Homo sapiens: one gene and its partner. The protein of the gene in region 2 purifies or fractionates together with the protein of the main gene of each other region. This does not show direct contact. Each region holds a gene or a part of one and is shown on either strand. Other genes may lie near its edges.

Region 1 (7,093 bases), on a different chromosome or scaffold from region 2:
AAACAATGCGTTAAAGTAATGGTAATAAATTACTATGCTGGATGAACATGGATTATGGCTGTTTAAGAACCTATGAAAAATGTACTAGTAACTTCAGAGCAAATTTATCATTGAATTATTTCCAAAAGCTGATGACTGCATACACAAATTAAATATTACGATGTTCTTAAAATGCATTCTGTTATAATGTAAATTTTGTATAAAATGGGACTATTGTGGACCTCACCAAGAAGGTTTATTACTAGAACTAGATTGAAAATGGAAATAAAGTCACAGAAATCTCCTGTTTAATTGTAGACAAACATGGATGCTTATTTATTTACTTTAATAGTTAATTCACCAAGGCTAATGCTATGGAATAGAGCTACTTCAAAATAATATGGAACAGAGCCTACTTCGAAATAATAGATTATGAATAAATTATTCTGAAGTAAGATCAGCAACATGCCAATTTGAGTTCAGGTGCAACTTGTAGGTGGAGGATTTGCAGACAGAAAACCACAACTAGAGTCCTGCTAGAGGGGCTAATCTGTTGAAAGAAAAATGAGCTTCTGTAGAAACAAATAAATGCCTCATACTTGTCTTTAAAAGTGTAACATGCACCACTACAAAACTGAAAACTAATGGTTATAGCAGCTGTTGTTTCAACCTCAGAAGCTGTGACAGCAATGAAAACATTATACCAATGTCTGGTCCAATAAAACTCTTGGTTTCCTGTGTTTTGTGTGGGTGGACAAAGTAATAATAGCAAAGAAAGAGAAGTTGTATCACTTTAGCCTAAACACACTGTGTAAATTTGTTGTTGTTTATTTGTAGAGATAAGATATTAGTAACTTAAAAATGACCTAAAGGAATCCCGAAGAGTTCTACAGTTCATTACTCATGGCAAGTAAAACTAAATACTCAACCTTATGAACTTTTAAAGCTGAAAATCCAAGATACTTGTAGAATGGGAAATGGACAGAGATGATGGTTTAAATTTTCAGTGGCATGTCCAAGCCATGAGTGTAGGTAGAAAGCCATGCTGAATCATTATCAATTTATTGGGGTAGAAATGACACCTTTAATGTTAATTTTATAGCTAACATCACAAAATAAGACTGATCATAGATATCTTTGAATCTGAATGTGAGCCTGAGGACTATTTTAGAGAAGTATATTCTACCTCTATGATGGAGTTTGTGTGAAATATTATAAGACTCAAAAGTAAACTTAAACTTTTATCCTCAAATACAGATATTTATTTTAAAGAGACCTTTAAGAAAATTGAATATCAACATTCAAGACTGAAGTCAACAAAGCATTCTGTGATACTTACAAATGTGAAATAAGTAGTTATAATTAAACTTTTAATTAAAAAGCTGCCTCGTCACTATCAAAACATTATGCATATCGGTAAGAAAACAGTGGTATGAATAACATGTCCTTTTACGCTACAATTATGTGTAAAATTACCTACTGAAATTGCTCTCCCATTACTTTGCCTTCTCCATAAAGAAGTTAAGTCTAGAGACCTTTTAGTTTGTTCTGGTCTTTTCTCTCCCTTCAGGAACTTCCATTAGTACACAACCAGCTAGGTATCTTCCTGTTAGAAATGAAAGTGTGATGGGCAGTCTTTAGTACCAGCTTAGCCAGTTTTCCCTAGTCTTAAAATTTGATTCAGGCTTAGTTTGGGCTTAATTTCACAGCTGCACCCAATGATTCACATACACACATGAATAACTTAATTCTTTGAATAGTTCTTAGAATGTCCATCACGAAAACTTAAAAATACATTGAGAAAACCCCTAAAACAATATAGAATATACTTTGTACTTTTTGTTTATCCTCTAACCTTGTGACCACATGGTTAATACTAATCATGGTATTATTGGTTGCAAAGGAAATGAAAATAACAGCCCACAATATTCTATATAATTTATGAAAGGTTAAGGTATCATATATGAAAACTGAGAACTCCCCCACCCCAAACACATTTTGGATTTTTTGCATGTCAGTAATGAAGTTCACTTTTCACCACCTTTCCAGTTGGAACATATAAAATGTATGACCTCTAATGCCTAATACATTAATGATCTATTGAACTAAGTTAACCCTTATAAAGTTCATAGAAGTGAAAATGTGGTCTAGAACAACACTGTTTGATAGAACTTTCTGTGATGGAAATGTTGCGTATCTACACTGTGCAACAGAGTGGCCACTAGGCACATGTAGCCATCAAGCCTTTCAAATGCGGCTTGTGTGACTAAGGAACTGAATTTTAAATTGTATTTAATTTTAATTAAAGTTAAATAGCCGCATGTATTGGATTAGCAGTCTAATAGACCCTTCAAACATTCAAGTAAGTGTTGGAAATGGAAGGTCCATTATAGGAAATCTAGGAATCTTAAATTCTCACCATCGGGTTTAAAACTCTATCATTCCTTCAGTATGAACTTTTCCAGAAGTTTCAGATTTTCAAAAGATAAAACTCAAACCAACCAAATCCTTTAGGGTGCTTTTCTGTATGAATCATCTTTCTGCAAAGAGGTGTAAGACTGTCTTTATTGCCAACTCTGCCCCCTCTTCTACAGACAGAACTCAGTGATTAGATTCTGCATTTATTTAGGTTATTCGCCTAAAAAACCTGGTTTCCATACTGCAAATAAATGACAGGAACTTTTCCACTAGATTATCCCAGACAGCAGAAATGTTCTTTCCAAAAGTGGAGCCTGGAACCACAGCCCCCTCACATTGCCTGTTACATCTGTTTATGCTTATAGAAGTGACATCCACTTCGTAGACAGAGAATGCCAATTTCTTGGGAAAGGACCCAGAATTTGGTGATGCTTAAAGGAAAAAAAAGCCCTTGCTGCTTAAAATTAAAAAATACATAGAACTGAGTATTGAGTAGTTACAAAATCCTTCTGAAATGAAAAGATTTTGCTCCCAGAGTATATAGAATTTGTGTACGGACTTGCCTGGGTTCATATTCAGCCATAATCATTTACTATTAATAGCCAATAAAGAAGCGGGTAAGTTACAAAACCTAAACCTTAGTTTTTCCATCAGTGAAATGGGGCTAAAAATAGTTATGTTGGGAAAACTTGTGAAAGACTTTGAAATGAGCAAAAGATTACTGTTTGTCCTTTCAATGGAATGCTGGATGTTATCTACAGGACTCCGGAGTGTTGTGAAATTTACAGTCGTCTGCACCTTACTTAGACTGACTTTCACTAGGCTATTTTACTACTCAGTAAGCTGTAGAAACGTTTGGTAATGTAAATGAGTTTTATCTACAGAATGCAAATTTGTTACTTTACAGATACAACTGGTTACCGCCCTGTAAAGCAGATAATAATAAACATTACATTTCAGTGCTCTATAGAATAGTAAGCAGATTTGCCTCTTCTTGCCTCTATGTCTACTCTTCACAGTCTCACGTGAATGGGTTGCAGTATCTTGCTGGGGTTCCCTTCCTAATTAAAAGAGTTATAAAAATTTTGACCAATGTTCATTTTATATTTCTACCATTGTCATGTTTTTACCTTCTTGAAAAATTATTTTTTAAGAGTTCCTGCTCCCTAGGCTTTTTGGAAGGATTGGTTTAAACATCTGTATTGACAGTCATGATCAGTTTTATATCTTGCAGGAAGGTGGTAACACTTCCGGTACTTGGGGGTGTAAGAGGTTGTACTGAGCCTTTAGAAAAGGGCGGGGTTCGGGGGGGAGTGAGCTGAAAAACTCTCCCTAGACAGGAAAGGTAGAAGACCTCCTCATCCCTTTCTCTTTGGCAGTGAGATCTTAAGGTCAAGGTGAGTAGTAGGCCAGGCGCAGTGGCTTAGGTGAAGGCCACACCAGACTTGGGCCTACGTCTTGGCCTTCCAGGTCAGCAGAGTGGCCTGGGACTTGGATGCCTTGGGGTCACGGAGTTAACTGCAGACTCAGACTAAGTGGGGCCCCAGCAGCGGTCAGCCCCAGAACCAAGTTCCGGAGCCAACACCCGAACAGGAAGGGGCCTTGCCCCAGGCCGGAGAGGCCCCTCGCCCACGGCCGAGGGGGTGGGGCGGCCTCGCCTCGGGCCGGTGCTTTTCGCCCTTCCTTGGCCGCCAGAGGCTCCCTCTCTCTCCCTCTCCCGGGATTTTGCTGCCGGGCTCCCTCTCTCTGCGGCCCTAGAGTTAATCCCATCAGCCGAGGTGAGGCACCTGTTACCCCGGCCTTCCTCACCCCCGCGGCCTCTCCTCCATTACACCGCGGCCGCCGAAACGGCCCGGCGTGGCGACCGCACGTGGGCCAAACCCCTTCCCCGGCCGGCACCCCTGGCCCCAGGCCGGCCCGAGCGTGCGGGCGCGTCGCTGCTCGGGCCGCCGCCCGCCCGCAATGGCGTTGGGGAGCGCAGCGCGCCTCCCGGGGCCGCCCGCCGCGGGCAGGGAGCGCCTGGGGGCCGACGCGCGAGTGGAAGCGGCCGCCGCAGCCGCCCTACGCGCTGCGCCGTGAGGAGCGGGTTGCGGTGTACCCAGCGGGCCGGCGCCGAGCCGAGCCGCCGCGTCCACCGTGGGGCGGGGGGCGCCTGCGAGGAGGGGGTGGGAGCCGCGGCGGCCCGACCCTCCCCGCCCGCGGCGCTCCCGCTCGGGTAAGGGGGAGGCTGAGCGCGGGGCGAGGAGTTGGGGAGGGTGGAGAGGAGGAAAAAATCGGCTTGTACAAAGGCTGAGTTGCAGGCTGGGGGTGGGGGTGGGTTGTGGTGGAGGAGCAATAGGTTGAAGATCGGAGGCATTATCAGTGGGATCTATTGTTTCCTGGCACATTGGGAGGAAAAACAAAGGGATTTATTTTCATTACCCTGTAATTTTTTTTCTTTTCTATTTTTTTAAATGTGGCCAGGGAGCTCGTCTCTCTCCGTGTCACAGTGGGATCCGCCTGGCAGCCGCCGGGAGCTGCAGCCAATGTGTTAGGACTTCAGGTGCTTCTTGGCACAAAGCTAGACTGCGACCTCCTACCATAGCGCTTGGCGTCACCTGCTCTCCCGGTCCTGCCCCAGGGCCGAGGGATTGCGTCCCGAACCGGGCTTGGGAATCGGCTGCCTCTCAAGTTGGTGTTATTTATGTTTGTCTTTTGTGAGGGCAGGTTTTGAATCCCCCGGCGGCCCCATCTCCCCCGCCCCCGCCTCCTTGGGTTGGAATTGGCGGGGGAGGGAATGGGGGGTGTGTGTAGGGGAGAGGGGAGGGTGTTTGTGGCTTTAAAAAGAATGGTCAGGGTAAAAGGAGATTGTCGATGCTTTACAAAAAAAGAAAAAAACAGGCACCACACTCCAAAGCCTTTCTTGTTTGTCTGCATGGGCCATGCATGCGTGCTGGGCCAGGAGCCGAGTTTGGAGACGGTTTAAGTGAAAGTGTGTGCCTCCTCAGCTGATTGTGCGTGAGGGTGATGTGGCTCGGTCTAATATCAAAACAAAACAAAAATAAAATGAAAAATCTTTAGAACTGCCTGCATTGTCTGCTCCTCAGCATATCTTGAAGTATTTGATTGCTGGCTTATTGATATAAAATCCTGCTGTGGGCTTAAAGAGACCAGCAAGCATGCATTGCGTTGCGTGTTGAACTGTAGTAAGTTAGAGGCAAGAAAGAATAAACAAATCAGGGCTGTGAAAAGGGGTGTCACAGTATATTTGCTTTCTGATTGTCACATTCTTACGCATTTATTCCCTTGGTAGTCTGCATCCCACTCCATAATTAATAATAACCACTGTTAGGAAACTTCCAAATACTTGTTATAACTGAACTTAGTGAAACTTATTGCTATTCAGGAACTTTTTTTCTCCTTGTTTTGATCTGAAATTGCATTAGTATTGCTTTGGGGATGCTGTAGATGAGAACATTGGACCAAAAAAAGTAAAATATGCCGCTGTAGGCATGTTTTGGAGTTTGTAAACATAGATTCCAAACTTAATTGTACTTAGAAAGAATAAGTTCTACCTAATTGTGGAGAATCCTAAATGAAGTTGATTTTCTGGACAGTTTGATGATTTCTTAAAGATCGATGAACTGCTGGTTTCTTTTTAAAGGGCATTCACAAAAGCGACCAAAACTTGGGCTAAAGTATTGCTTTCAAATATACTTATGTGTAGCTTGTATTTGTGAGTGTGTGTATGTGTTTGTGTGTGTGTGAGATTTTGATAGGTATCTCCAAATTGTGTTTGGAACTTTTTTTTTTTTTTTTTTACCAAAGACCAATCAGAATGATAACTTTTTGACTTTTAACTTCCCATTTCAATGAGTAATCTCTTCTGTTTGCCACGTGGCTAAGCCATTTGGAAAAAAAAATGTATGTTATTTGACTAGACATAAATTCAAATAAGTAAATGAATTCAGAAATTCATTCTTTTCTATTGCAGATGAACCTCTAGTCTTGCTTTGAAAAAATCATTCTGTGTAACTCTTGACTGTGACTAAGTTCCTAATACACCTGTTGGGACGATCACTGACACCGTATACCATTTGAGAGGTACTTTTCTTGACCCAATACTGGTGATTAGAGAAGAGAGGTATCTTGGTTTTTGGTTTTTTTCTTTGATCATTATGAACATTGGCTTTTCACCCCTGAAGTGAAAATGTTGAAAACTGAGTCTTCAGGTGAACGAACCACTCTCAGAAGTGCCTCTCCTCACAGGAATGCATATCGAACTGAGTTTCAGGCACTGAAAAGTACCTTTGACAAACCCAAGTCAGATGGGGAACAAAAAACAAAAGAAGGTGAGGGCTCCCAGCAGAGCAGGGGGAGGAAATATGGCTCCAATGTCAACAGAATTAAAAACCTATTTATGCAGATGGGTATGGAACCCAACGAGAATGCTGCAGTCATTGCCAAAACAAGGGGGAAAGGTGGACATTCATCTCCTCAGAGAAGAATGAAGCCCAAAGAATTTCTGGAAAAAACAGATGGCTCAGTTGTTAAGTTGGAGTCTTCTGTTTCTGAACGAATTAGTAGATTTGACACTATGTACGATGGCCCTTCATATTCCAAGTTCACTGAGACTCGAAAGATGTTTGAGAGAAGTGTGCATGAATCAGGACAGAACAACCGCTATTCCCCAAAGAAAGAGAAAGCTGGAGGGAGT
Region 2 (3,518 bases):
TAGATGATGGTGATAATGCTGGTAGAAATAGTGACTATTAAGTGCTTACTGAGTTCTAGGCTCTAGGTGATGCACTGTCTTTTTTGTATGTAGGGACCATCCTTATTCCCATCTTACAGAGGCAGACTCAGGCTTGTATAACAGATTGCAACTCAAGCAGTCCATCTGCAGAGTCTTTATTCTTACCTAGATACTTGATACAGCTGAAATTCTTCATTGTGCTCAGTCCTTCTTTATCCACAGCATCAGTGAGCCTCCTTCAGCTCCCATCTCTCCTCGGATGAACAAGGGGGAGCCTCAACCCCGGAGACACTTGCTGGGGTTCTCAGAGCAAGAGCCAGTTCAGGGAGTTGAACCTCTCCAGGGGTCCTCCCAGGGCCCTAAGGAGCCCCAGCCCAGCCCCACAGACCAGCCCAGTTTCAGGTGAGGAGAGAGAGAGAGGGCCCCCTCTCGTTTGAGGGTATGAGTTGGTCTTCTCCCCGCTTTCAGTGAGGGGGACCCAAAGCTTTCTCTTGCCGTCATCGCCTTCTTTGTTGTGGGAGTGCTGGGCAGTCTCCAAGTGTTGTCTCCTTCCTGCTTCACTCCAGCAACCTGACAGCCTTCCCTGGGGGCGCCAAGGAGCTACTACTAAGAGACCTAGACCAGCTCTTCCTCTCCTCTGATTGCCGGCACTTCAACCGCACTGAGTCCCTGAGGTGTGGGATTCATTGCTGGGGCATCCAGCTCCCCCGGCCTCCCAAGGCCTTCTGCAGTCAGCCTGGCTGGCCTGTGTACTAAAGCGCCAGTGCTCCCTGCCCTCTCCTCACTCCTGTGGGTGGGCAAGGAGGGTGGGAATCTTGGCCTGGCATGGAGGTCCTGAGCTCCTCCATTTCCCCAGGCTTGCTGACGAGTTGAGTGGCTGGGTCCAGCGCCACCAGAGAGGCCGGAGGAAGATCCCTCAGAGGGCCCAGGAGAGACAGGTAGGGCGGGTGGCTGGTTCAAGGAAGGCCACTTGAAGACAAGGGCTAAAGGCCTTGTCTGGGGATTTCTAGTGGGCATCTCGCTGTGGAAGTTTGAGGGATCGTTTGAAGGAAGTGGAGGGTTGAGTGGGAGGTGGCATCAGCTTCCAGGGGCTGTTTGTCTCTTTCCCTTTTCCCTTCACCCTCTCCAAGTCCTTAGATACTTCTCCTTCCAGAAGTCTCAGCCACGGAAGAAGTCACCTCCAGTTAAGGCAGTCCCCATCCAACCCCCTGGACCCCCAGAAAGGTGAGTGTGGGGTGGGGTGCTTACTTATTAAGTGAAATTCCACTTTCAAGAGCTGTACCCCCAGTAGCTGTCCTGTGCCTGTCATTACTGTCACCAGTGGGATTATACCTCCCTCCTCCACTGGGGGTCTCCTGTCTTTTTCTCTCATCCTACCCGCTTCCCTGGTAGAAACTGAGCATTGGGCTTAGTTCCCCTCAAATCCTGTTTCCCCACCTGCCTAGGGATTCTGTGGGCCAGCTGCAACTATATCGCCACCCAGACCGTTCGCAGCCAGCATTCTTGGATGCAATTGACCGACGGGAAGACACATTTTATGTTGTCTCTTTCCGAAGGGTGAGTTTCTCCTGCCCTTCCATCTCTGTCACCCCAGGTTCCCAGCAGTCTGTCTTCAGTGGGGGGATGTAGAGTAGGGCTGGGGAGCTTGTTGGCATCTTTGCCTCCACCCTTCTGGCCTGGCCCATCTGTTCCCCAGGACCACCTGCTGCTCCCAGCCATCAGCCACAACAAGACCTCCCGGCCCAAGATGTCCCTGGTGATGCCTGCCATGGCCCCCAATGGTAACTCTTTCCCTGCTGGGTATGGGGGCAGTTCCAACAGGGAGATCCAGCCTGGGAGCTGAGGGGGAAGGGGGAGAGGAGCAGGGCATCCAGAGAGCTGCTGGACCCACAGGTGAGAAGCAGCAGGAAGTAGGTGGAGGGAAGAGCACCATGCAGGAGACTTGGGAGGGAGACAAGGGTGAGGGTCCTTCCCTGGTGAAGGTGCTTGGGTAGATGACTGGGCAGAGGCGGGGGGCCGGGAACCTGCTAGACTCTCACTTACTTTTTTCTCTTGATGTCCTCTCCTGTGTGACCCCACACTCAATGCCCTTTTCTTTTCCTACCCTCTCCTTGCCCCTGCACCAAACTCTGTCCCTGCCATCCTGTTTAACTCCCGCTATGGATCTGCCTCCTCACTATTGCCCTTTCTTTTTCTCTCTGCTCACCTCTACTTTTCTGACCTCCTCCCCTCCTCCCTGCAATCCCTGTTTGCCTCCCCATCTCCTCTTCCTTAACTCTCCCCTTCTCACAGAGACCCTGTCAGGCCGTGGGGCCCCGGGGGACTATGAGGAGATGATGCAGATCGAGTGTGAGGTCATGGACACCAGGGTGATTCACATCAAGACCTCCACAGTGCCCCCCTCGCTCCGAAAACAGCCATCCCCAACCCCAGGCAATGCCACAGGTGGCCCCTTGCCAGTCTCTGCAGCCAGCCAGGCCCACCAGGCCTCCCACCAGCCCCTCTACCTCAATCATCCCTGACCTCTGCCATTCACACTGACTTAGAACGGGGGGAGGGGGTACCAGGTGGCCAGGTGGGACTGTTTCAAATTTCCCTGATCCCCAGGCTTGGGGCAATTGGTAAAGGAAAGAGCAGGTGTGGGGGTTAAGCACTTATTTGAGGTGGGGGTGTTCACCTCTCTTCTCATCCCTTTTCAGAATATAGGGCTCCTCTCATTCCTGTGAACCCCCAGTCCTGGCTTCTTTGTTTGAGGGGATTGTGTGAGGTTCAGTTGTGGGGTGGGTGGTGAGCTGCTGCATATTTTTTATTTTGTTTCTCTAGTGTTATGGCAGTGGAGGTGGGAATTTAGTCCCCAGGTGGGACAAGGGAAGTTTTTTCATTTTGGAGCTAGTTACTGGGAGTAAGGGAGGGTGGGGTGGGGGGGAGTTCAGGTTTATGTGTGTGCATTTCTTTTTTATTATTATTAAATAAACAACTTGGAGGGAGTTGAAGGAATGGTGGCTGCCTTCCTGGCTCGTGATGGGGAGTTTGGGGGAAAGTGGCTTTTCCAGAGCCAGCATCAAAGAATCAAGCACTGAAGACATAGCTGGCTCTGAGGTGGGGTGGGTGCGGGATCACAGACCGCATGTCATCCCCTTGCCCCCACCCCTGCAACTCTGGGGTATATCTGTGTCTAGCAACGATGTCTCATGGCGTGACAGACTAGAGGATACGCATCCCTGGAATGTGAGTCAACAGGAAAGATGGGGCCCCACGCCCTTCAGGGTGAGCAGCCTCTGGGTCTCCTGCTCTCGAGCAGGTTCTCCCCCTCTTCTTGCTGTCCAGGATGAGCAGCTCAAACAAACAACAAGAGCTGGGGCCAGAGGCTCAGAGCCCAGGAAGTGGGGGTCTCGGTGAAGAAGGGGTGATATTTGGAAGGGAAGGGGGATGTGGCAGGATATCCTCTAAGCCCTAAACTGGAGGGGACTGAGACTTGAGAGTCCAGATGAAAGACA

Evidence for each region. Proteins that work in one complex are often made in the same cells at the same time.
Region 1: the proteins of ATF6B (region 2) and PPP1R9A purify together in Homo sapiens (affinity purification with mass spectrometry; 2 studies listed by BioGRID and IntAct, with this or other methods). This does not show direct contact.

Annotation. Positions count from the first base shown.
Region 1 is NC_000007.14:94,903,528-94,910,620, forward strand, and holds the start of PPP1R9A (neurabin-1), read left to right. Parts: upstream 1-4,066; 5' UTR 4,067-4,175; intron 4,176-4,425; exon of another isoform or gene 4,426-4,612; intron 4,613-4,717; exon of another isoform or gene 4,718-5,067; intron 5,068-6,370; 5' UTR 6,371-6,586; coding exon 6,587-7,093. UniProt on the Homo sapiens protein: Binds to actin filaments (F-actin) and shows cross-linking activity. Binds along the sides of the F-actin. May be involved in neurite formation. Inhibits protein phosphatase 1-alpha activity.
Region 2 is NC_000006.12:32,114,764-32,118,281, reverse strand, and holds the end of ATF6B (cyclic AMP-dependent transcription factor ATF-6 beta), read left to right. Parts: intron 1-243; coding exon 244-423; intron 424-587; coding exon 588-695; intron 696-877; coding exon 878-959; intron 960-1,174; coding exon 1,175-1,245; intron 1,246-1,466; coding exon 1,467-1,578; intron 1,579-1,717; coding exon 1,718-1,802; intron 1,803-2,313; coding exon 2,314-2,543; 3' UTR 2,544-3,018; downstream 3,019-3,518.